Linked DNA regions of Homo sapiens. Each later gene encodes a partner of the first gene's protein in a complex. Each region holds a gene or a part of one and is shown in the gene's direction. Other genes may lie near its edges.

Region 1 (3,500 bases):
AGTGAACTGGACTATAATGATTCAAAAGGCTAAGTAATATAGGTAACATCAGTATCCTAAAGTATATTCTAATTCACTGATGCTTGATTTTTTGGGGGATTGTATAGTCCCCTTTGCATATATTATGAATGCTGTGGAGCCTCTTCTAGTTTTTTTTCAAAAAAGGTAAGAAAATTTTGCTTAGAATGCCCATGAAGCCTGACTGCTGATCTAAGGAAGTAACTGATTCAATCTGTGCTTTTTGTTTCTGTACTAATACTGCCTTAGTTCAGAGTACTCCTCCTGCCAGAATTCTTTGAGATAATCTCCTGACAGGTTTGTTTCATCCATTGCCCCTCTTAACAGTTTATCCTTTTTATCATAAAGACAATTGTATTATATATAACCCTCCTTTAATTTTTTTATGAAAAGTTTCAAACATGTAAGAAAATAATATAGTATTGTGACCTCCCACAAACGTGTCACTCATCTTAAACAGCAACGACTCATGATCAGTCTTGTTTTACCTGTACTTCTATCCATTCATTGTCCATTCCAAATTATTATTTTCTATTATTTTATTTATTTTTAAGAGACAGGGTCTCACTATGTTGCACAGGCTGGAATGCAGTGGTGCGATCGTAGCTCACTGCAGCCTCAAAACTCTTGGGTTCAAATAGTCCTCCCACTTCAGCCTCCCAAATAGCTTGGACTATAGGCACGTGCTACCACGCCTGGCTAATTTTTTTTTTAGTAGAGACAGGGTCTTTCTATGTTGTCTAGGCTGGTCTTGAGATCATGGCCTCAAGTAGTCCTCCTACCTTGGCATCTCAGGAGTGCTGGGATTAAAGGCATGAGCCACTATGCCTGGCATGCCTCAGCCTCCAGAGTAGCTGGGATTATAGGTGTGCCACCATGCCCGACTAATTTTTTGAATTTTAGTAGGGATGGGGTTTCACCATATTGGCCAGTCTGGTCTCAAACTCCCGACCTCAGGTGATCTGCCCACCCTGGCCTCCCAAAATGCTGGGATTACAGGTGTGAGCCACTATGCCCTGCCTAAATTTTCTTTTATTCTATTAGTGCTTGAAGTTACTGAGTTCTGAAGTTGTTGAGCTTCTCTCTGCTTTGCTATTGATTTGAGCAAGTTCGGAGCACCATGGCCCTCATCTTCGCATTTTACGCTTTTTTTGCAAGTTTATCAACAAGCTCAATTAAACCACCAACTGTTTTCTGAAACTGGCCAGTTTTGTCCGCAAAGTTCTTGCACTCTTCTTTGAGCTCTGTGGTCTGCTGGGTAACCTCTGAGTCCAACACCCACAGCTTGTTCAACTCATCAAAGTGCAGTCCCTCTTCAGCCAGGATGTCCTTTACCATAGTTGTTTCGCATCCAAGTTCCCTAGAGAAGCTCTGCTCTGAAGGAGTGACGGTGACAGTCAGGAGGAGGTGTGTCATAGGAACAAGGGTCGAGAAAGAATAAAGTTCGCTTGCTTGTCACAGGTATTGTTCATTCAACACACATTTCTTTGAGTGCCCACTACATGCCAACACTGCTAGATGCTGGGGGTACAGAGATGAATGCAACATGGTGCCCACCCTGCTGGCCCCGTGGCAGCAGCTTACTATGGCCCAGGCTGATGTAGACTGGCAGCTTCTCCCCATCACTGGTAGCTGGTATGCAGGCAGCCTGCCTCGGCTGTTGCCATGACTACAGAGACTCTTTACCCATGACCTGAAATATATTTTTATTAAGGTTTTTTTTTTTTAACAAAATGGTTTTAAATTTATTTAAATTAATTTCCTTTTTTTTTTTTTTTAAATTGAGGCAGGGTTTCATTTTGTTGCCCAGGCTGGAGTGCAGTGGGCGCAATCCCGGCTCACTGTAACCTCCGCCTCCCAGGTTCAAGCAATTCTCCTGCCTCAGCCCCTTGAGTAGCTGGGATTACAGGCATGCACCACCATGCCCAGCTAATTATTTTGTATTTTTAGTAGATACGGGGTTTCACCATGTTGGCCAGGCTGGTCTTGAACTCCTGACCTCAAGTGATCACCCGCCTTGGCCTCCCAAAGTGCTGGGATTTCAGGTGTGAGCCACCGTGCGCAGCCTAAATAACTGTGTATGCTCGCTTTTGTGTGTATACACTCACTGCCCCTCATAAGACAATTTAGGTTCACAGCAAAATTTAGCAGAAAGTACAAGTAGTCTCCTACCCCAAAGTTTTGCCTTTTCCAGAATACATTCATATACCTTCCCATGGTATCCTTGGGGGAAATTTGTTCCAGGGGTTCTCCTCCAGGATACAAAATCCTCAGATGCTCAAGTCCCTCAATACAATGAGTTTGTAACTTATGCACATCTTCCTGTATATTTTAAATCTCTAGATTACTTTTTTTTTTTTTTTGAGACGGAGTCTCGCTGCGTCGCCCAGGGTGGAGTGCAGTGGCGCGATCTCGGCTCACTGCAAGCTCTGCCTCCTGGGTTCACGCCATTCTCCTGCCTCAGCCTCCCTAGTAGGTGGGACTACAGGCACCCGCCACCACGCCCGGCTAATTTTTTGTATTTTTAGTAGAGACGGGGTTTCACCTTGTTAGCCAGGATGGTCTCGATCTCCTGACCTTGTGATTTGCCTGCCTTGGCCTCCCAAAGTGCTGGGATTACAGGCGTGAGCCACTGCGCCCGGCCTAGATTACTTATATAATCTAAATGCTATGTAAATAGTTGTTACACTTTTTAAAACTTTTTATTTGAGACAGGGTCTCAGTCTGTCACCCAGGCTGGAGTGCAGTAAAACAATCACTGCTCACTGCAGCCTTGATCTCTGGGTTCAGGTGATCCTCCCACCTCAGCCTCCTGAGTAGCTAGGACTACAGGCACCCGCCACCACACCTGGCTAATTTTTGTATTTTTTCTAGAGACAGAGTTTTGCTAAGTTGCTGAGGCTGGTTTTGAGCTTCTGGGCTCAAGCTATCTGCCATCCTTGGCCTCCCAAAGTGCTAGGATTACAGGTGTCAGCTACTGCACCTGGCTAGTTGCTATAATTTTTAAAAATTATTTTTTGGCTGGGCGCAGTGGCTCATGACTGTAATCCCAGCACTTTGGGAGGCCAAAGCGGGTGGATCACAAGGTCAGGAGTTTGAGACCAGCCTGGCCAATATGGTGAAACGCCGTTTCTACTAAAAATATAAAAGTTAGCCAGGTGTGCTGGCACGTGCCTGTAATCCCAGCTACTTGGGAAGCTGAGGGCAGGAGAATCGCTTTAACCCGGGAGGCGGAGGTTGTAGTGAGTCGAGATCGCGCCACTGCACTCTAGCCTGGGCGACAGAGCGAGACTCTGTCTCAAAATATATATATATATATTTTTATTATTTTTCTGGAATATTTTTGCCTTGCCATTGTTTGAATCTGTGAATGGGGAACCCTTGGATACAGAGGGTTGCCTTAGTTTGAATCGTATAATATGTAGCCTTTTCACTTAGTAGCAGTGTATTTAAGGCTTCTCCTTGTCTTTTCTATGGGTTGA
Region 2 (3,208 bases), on another chromosome or scaffold:
TGAGCTACGCCTGGGTCTTCTGCAGACTCATGCAGCCCTATGGCCGCTCAGACCAAGGCGCAGAGCAACTATCAGGGCAGCTCTGCCTCCTCCTCCCATGAGGTGGGGAGAGGCAACAGGGCAGCCCCCAGAGGAGTGTCCTGGCCGCTGTCCTCCCGGGGCCCATGATGGCCATAGATTTGCCTTGTGGTGTTGGATCAGGTACTGTGTCTGCTCATAAGTACTTGTGTCATCCAGAATGTTTTGTTTTTTAAGAAAATTGAATTACTTGTTTCCTGAAATATTCTGAGGTTAATATGTTAGTTTTCATAGAACATTGAGAGGCCCCTGCCACTTTCAATAAAGACCTGACTTGGAGACATGCAGGTGTGTGTGGTGGGGCCCGGGCCATGCGGGGCTGCAGCGTCCCTGGTCCCGAGTCCTCATCACAGCACGCAGAGACGGCAGCCCAGCCCCCCTTCGAAACTTCCCTGTGACGGATTCCTGGGCTCTGCTTGGCCCACCGGAAGAACAGAGCAGGCAGAGGAGAATGCAGGTGGGGAGATGCTGTTTGTTTATTTTTAATCAAATGTGTGTGAACAAAGCAGTCGCCCATCTACTTCCCGTTGGAAGGAATGCTGGGCAGTAATAAATTAGACGGCCCCACCCTCCCAGGGCACAGGGGGACTTTGGTTTCTGCTTCTCTAGAGGTACATGGGGAACAAGCGTGGCTTCTGCCAGACTTGTTTAGCTGTGACCTGCAGGGCAGGCCCCTGGGGCTGCCACTTGGTTCACCAGATGGAAGGTCAGCATGGCTGTGCCACGCTTGTCTGAGAGGGTCCTGGCAGTGGGTACGCAGGGTGTATGGCAGGGCCTCTTTTCCAGTGCTTGCTCTAGGCCAGTCCTCGGCAGGGACCCTGCTCTGGGGAGAGAGGCAGGGTGTGCCCAGGCTTTGGTCCGATGCCGAGAGCACTGCTCAGGCCTTGTCTGCGTCTTTGAGCCAGGGGCCTGGGAGCTGTGGCTTGAGCGGCTCCGCGCTCAAGACTCGCACATTTTTCCCAGGGCCCCAGATAGCTGCTGGCATGCACTAGGTCCTGGGTGGGGGGATGAAGCCCCTCCCAGATGTTACATGAGGCCCACCCACACTGCTGGTGCCAGTGGGGATCCAGTGAGACCACAGCCACTTCCCATCTGTTGAGAAGCCTCAGGACAGAGGTCACCTCTGTGTCCTGCTGTTCTTTGTAGTTGTGTCCAAACCTGGGCAGGTTGAGCGTCATTCCTCCTTCCCCCTGACCATCCCCTCCAGCCCTGAGGAGGGTTGGGGGCCATCCTGCACGATGCTTGGGGCCCTCCCGGCTGAGCTGCTGGCCCCCTGGATCACCTCCATCCACCTGGAGGAGAGGGCGGCCATCAGACCAGTGAGCCATCTTGTGCTCAGACACTGTCCCAAGAACAACCCAGGATATGGGACAAGCAGGACAAAAGAAGGGTTAAAAACCTGGGGCCGGGTGCGGTGGCTCATGCCTATAATCCCAGCACTTTGGGAGGCTGAGGCAGATGGATCACTTGAGGTCAGGAGTTCGAGACCAGCCTGGCCAACATGGTGAAACCCTGTCTCTACTAAAAATACAAAAATTAGCCAGGCGGCGTGGCGTGCATGCCTGTAATCTCAGTTACTCAGGAGGCTGAGGCAGAAGAATCGCTTGAACCCTGGAGGTGCAGGTTATAGTGAGCCAAGATTGTATCACTGCACTCCAGCCTGAGTGACAGAGGGAGACGCCATCTCCAAAAAAAAAAAAAACAAAGCATTGCTGTTTTTTGGAAATGCTGGAAGCATTGCTCAGCCCTTCCTTTCCAGGGCCCAGAAAACTTGCCTCCACCACCATGAGTAGAAATGGGAGCTGAGCGGACATCGAAATGGGCAGCTGACCAGGGCTGCCTCCTGCAAAATTACCTTTCAAATGTGTACTTGCTCTCAGCCCGGAAGAAGTAGACGTGGGATTTGAACTGGAGCTTGAAAACATAGTCTTTGTGTATGCCATCGGCCTCCCTGGGGATGCTCACGCTGTAGCCCAGCAGCGGGAGGCTGGCCAGTGGGTAGTCATCCTGCAAGACAGCATAGGGACACGGGTTCCAGGGGCTGGGTTGCCACAGGGAATGCCCATTCCTCTGCTACCTGCACAACGGTGGCACGTACAAATGCCCACGGGCCAAGGGAGCCAGTTTCCCTGTTCACACAGCACAGGGTGTGTGGGCAAAGCATGGGAGGGCAGAACCAAAATACAAAAGGGACACAGGTGAGCAGGGTTAAGTGTCTGTCTGCTAGCATCACCTGCATTGGGCTCCAGTGAAACTCCAGTACCTGATGAGTTTTGTAGAAGAACAAACAGAAGTTGGTAAAGACGACCCAGAGCTTCTGCCAGCCATGACTGTTTTTGAACTTTCTTAGCAGATATCCTGAAAGCTGGTTCTGTCAATAAAGGAAAAATGCAGGTGCATTAACCAGCACCCAGGACCCCTTGTGGGAGTGGGTTTGCTCCCCAAGACTAAGCCTCTGCATGCTTTCTCCAGCTGAGGCCTTGGTTTTACCTCTGGACTGCTATGAACAGCAGCTTTATCAGTACTTAAGTCCAACAGAAGCATGTTAAAAACCTAGAGTGACATTCCAGGCACCAAGTAAAGTGAGTTCCCTTTCCCTGTGCACAATAAAGTCAGTGTTCAGTAACCAACCATCCACAAACCCATCCAACAGCCAGAAGAGAGAAGATACCTTAAGAGACAGTACATTGAGCCAAGTCTGGAAGGTTCTTTAAAATGATGGGTGGGGGAGAGGCAAGTAAAGGCACACACAAGATGCCCCACTGCAGCCCTGTCCCTAAGCATGTGGCATCTGTTCTGCCAGGATTAGGCATGGCTTTGGCGCTGGAGTGGCTGGGCTCATGGGGCTCACATGAGCCTCCCGCCTTCAGGGTGGTATTCAGGGGTTGCACTCTAAGATGGCGGAGCGGGCCTAGCTAGGACCCTGCTTAGATCTCAGGTGTCCTGGACTGGCCATAAGCTGGTGGGCCCAGGTCAGGGACCTGCTGCACCCTGACCTACCCAGGGTCATCAGGGGAGAGGCTCGGGCTCAGCCCCCTCACGGGGGTGCTGGGGTAGCTCCTGAGCCCCTGCCCAGCCGATTGTGGCTGGGGTGAATTATGGGGAGACAGCAAAAAAGACAAGAGCTCTG
Region 3 (3,500 bases), on another chromosome or scaffold:
ATGCAACATTTTCTAAGTACGTCTAAGGAGATGCAGGCTGAGACCACCACACCAGTGTTTGATGACTACATCAGCATCGGGTGGTGGTGGGGCTTGTCCTGCATGCCACGATGCTCTGCATTTTATTACACGATGATGTTTCTTGCAGCCATCATGCACCAGCACCAGTGGAGATGTGTGCAGGCATGTCTTCCCATACAAAGCATGTGTCCTGTATGGGCTTATGCCCCAGCACACAGAGCTCCACCCCACAGCTACCGAGGAGCTGGCTGAGAGGCGAGAATATGAGCACCTCCGGGGTAGTTGGGGTTTCACCCTTGGATGGACAGGGAGGGAGAATACTTGAGGTGATCCACGTTTCTCATGAGTTTGAATCTGAAAACATGCTTGGCTCTTGTAATCAAGCTTTTGTAATTTGGAGTGAGTGGGAACTTGGTTCGACTCGGTGTTTGGGTGTTCCTGCTGTCTGTTCCCATTTGGGCCATGCTGGTTTCCTTGGGAAGCACATTCCCTGTCACTATCGCCATCCTCAAGGCAGGCAGCTGACCAGGTGCTGCTTGCGGTGGCCATGCTGAGCCCAGGGCATGGGTGAAGTCCTCAGCCCAATCACAAGGGAAGGGAGGGAGGGACCTGGGAAATAGCCCTTCTAAACCGGGAAAGTTGGTGGTGAAGCGCATCCAGTTGCTCTTTCAGCAGACAGGAAAAAGGGGATCTCCTGGCTCCTTTCCAGTTTCTCTGAGATAATTCCAAATTGACATTTCTATTATATGGTTGGATGTGGCCAAACGTTAATACAGAAAGTTAACAAAGCAGCCCAGCATGGTGGCTCACATCTGTAATCCCAGCACTTTGGGAGGCCGAGGCAGGTGCATCACCTGAGGTCAGGAGTTCAAGACCAGCCTGGCTAACATGGTGAAATCCCGTTTCTACTAAAAATACAAAAAATTAGCCTGGTGTGGTGGTGCAGGCCTGTAATCCCAGCTACCCAGGAGGCTGAGGCAGGAGAATCGTTTGAACTGGGGAGGCGAGGTTGTAGTGAGCCGAAATCGTGCCACTGCACTCCAGCCTGGGCAACAAGAGCAAAACTGTCTCAAAAAAAAAAAAAAAAAAAAGTTAAACAACACAGAACATATATTTTGTCAGCATTTGTCATAAAGTATTTTATAAACTAGGAGATAAGCTTTTTTTTGAGACAGAGTCTTGCTCTGTCGCCCAGGCTGGAGTGCAGTGGCGCGATCTCGGCTCCCTGCAAGCTCCGCCTCCTGGGTTCACGCCATTCTCCTGCCTCAGCCTCCTGAGTAGCTGGGACTACAGGCGCCCACCACCACGCCCGGCTAAATTTTTTTGTATTTTTAGTAAAGACGGGGTTTCACCATGTTAGCCAGGGTGGTCTCGATCTCCTGACCTCGTGATCTGCCCGCCTCGGCCTCCGAAAGTGCTGGGATTACAGGCGTGAGCCACTGCGCCCGACCAGATCATTTAAGCTCTCTTAAATGATCCCTGTGAAGCTCTGTGCAGAGTTTTCTGTGAAAATGTATTTATTAGGGACATCCTTGGAAAGACAGTGCCCTGCCCACCATAGCACCCAGAGCCCAGGCGTAGGTCCTGAGCGACTCGTCTTTGGGTGAGTTGCAGTGAGAAGCGCTGTGGAGTAGAGAGTCCAGCCATCAGGTGTCAGTGTGGCGGTTGACATTTTGAGGCAGAAGTCTGTCCTTTGGGGTAGGACCAAGAACTTCATCTCATACTTTAATTGTTGGGTGTGTTTTTCCAGAGACCCACTGCTAAGGAGTTATTGAAGCACAAGTTTATACTACGCAATGCAAAGAAAACTTCCTACTTGACCGAGCTCATCGACAGGTACAAGAGATGGAAGGCCGAGCAGAGCCATGACGACTCGAGCTCCGAGGATTCCGACGCGTAAGTCGGCCCCTGAGTGACCCAAGCATGTGTGTGGGAGGGATCCGCTGGTCTTTGTCACTGTTTGGTGTGGGTTTCGTTTTCTGTTGAGTTTTTTTTTTTTTTTAGACAATCCAGGTTGGTGGCAATTGTTGTGTTAGACACAGCCTGGGCCTGTTTGGGAGTTGTTTAGCCTCTTGACGTTGCTGGTGGAGTTTCTGCGAGTGAACTCTTGTGGTAGAGCTGTGCATGGGGAACTGGACCTGGCTGTTTCATTCTGTTTTGTTTCGTTCTGTTCTGTTCTGTTTTCCATTAAACTTCCTGTTTGTAAAACCCTGATCAGGTGAAACTGCTTTACATGGATGTCTGAAAGGCCAGAAATGCATGTGTTTGTGATTCTGTATTGTGTCTGGTAGAAGCTTCTGTACCAGGAGTGGCTTACTGAGAATTGCTGTCAAGTTTGGCATCTAGGAATTCCCTTGGCTTAAGAGGCGGAGTGGGGCTGGAGCCATTTGTGTGGGGAGGGCTGGGGGAGGTGGTCGGGCAGACTTGTGTCTGGAAGTCCGAGCGTGGGACTCGTCTGTTCTCGTGCATGCCTTGGCAGAAGTTAAAGTTGGCCCACAGTGCAGGTCCATGTGCCAGGCCAGTTGAATGAGGATTTCCGGGGATGAGACCCTAAGTGGTTTTTCAGGGTCTCTAGGTGATTCCAGTTTAAAGCCAAGGTTGAGACCACTGCCCCCGGAAGTTCTTGAGGTACTGCCATTGGGAGATTGCTGGGGTAGCAACAGGGATGACAAGAGAAAGAGACTGGAGAGAGGTTTGGAGAGCCAGGACGCGGCGGTGGATTTGGGTGAAGGAGGGAAGCCAATGTTCCAGGCTGGGGCAGCGTGGCACCAGGTGTTGTGATGTGTGGTGCGGGAAGCCGAGTGTGGGGTGAACCGTGTGTGAGTCTGAGTTGTCCAGGAGAGACGTCCAGTGTGAAGTGGCACCGAGGTGTGGAGTTCAGGTGAGAAAGCTGGGCAGGTGAAGCGGGCTTAGGGGCCACTGCTCTGTGGAGGTCACTTGAGCCGAGAGAAAAAAGGGTGTCAGTTGGGGCATGTGGGGGAGTGAGGCTGGCCCCTAGGTGTGAGGGTGAGGCTCCGCCTGTGAGTGAGAGGGGAGAGGTATGGCCGAGGGGCGGGAGGAGGTGCAGGCTTAATGGGGCCACAGGCATCAGGGGATGATCAGCAGGGCCTGGGGCTCATTGCCTCTGAGGCCCATACAGGACAGGGAGTGATCAGCACACCATCATCTCATGATGGGGGAGGGAGCGCTCGGAGGGACACGGGTGGGCTTTGGAGCGAGTGGAGGGTACCAAATAGAGGCAGTGAGTGTGAATCCCAGAACCAGGGCTGAGAGATGGCCAAGGTGAGGCCAAAGTGTTGGAATGACAGGCATGAGCCACCACACCCAACACAGGGACATCTGCTTCCCTGGTGAGAGGAGGAGCCCAGCAGAGAGAAGCTGATGTCCCAGAGATGGGCTCCCAGGGAGGTGGGGGAGGTGTTCTCCGGGAGGAGGAGGAGGGTGGGCATGCACACACTGGCACGCCAGGGAGTTGTGGA

What was found.
Region 2: STRN3 (region 1) and STK25 share a complex: the UniProt entries of both Homo sapiens proteins name them as parts of the core of STRIPAK complex.
Region 3: STRN3 (region 1) and STK24 share a complex: the UniProt entries of both Homo sapiens proteins name them as parts of the core of STRIPAK complex.

The regions. Positions count from the first base shown.
Region 1 is NC_000014.9:31,016,380-31,019,879, reverse strand, and holds part of STRN3 (striatin-3), read left to right. Parts: intron 1-3,500. UniProt on the Homo sapiens protein: Calmodulin-binding scaffolding protein which is the center of the striatin-interacting phosphatase and kinase (STRIPAK) complexes.
Region 2 is NC_000002.12:241,492,170-241,495,377, reverse strand, and holds the end of STK25 (serine/threonine-protein kinase 25), read left to right. Parts: 3' UTR 1-1,252; coding exon of another isoform or gene 1,253-1,370; 3' UTR 1,371-1,929; coding exon of another isoform or gene 1,930-2,085; 3' UTR 2,086-2,341; coding exon of another isoform or gene 2,342-2,449; 3' UTR 2,450-2,708; downstream 2,709-3,208. Other genes in the region: FARP2 (FERM, ARHGEF and pleckstrin domain-containing protein 2), read right to left, coding at 1,253-1,370, 1,934-2,085, 2,342-2,449. UniProt on the Homo sapiens protein: Oxidant stress-activated serine/threonine kinase that may play a role in the response to environmental stress.
Region 3 is NC_000013.11:98,462,108-98,465,607, reverse strand, and holds part of STK24 (serine/threonine-protein kinase 24 isoform b precursor), read left to right. Parts: intron 1-1,771; coding exon 1,772-1,917; intron 1,918-3,500. UniProt on the Homo sapiens protein: Serine/threonine-protein kinase that acts on both serine and threonine residues and promotes apoptosis in response to stress stimuli and caspase activation.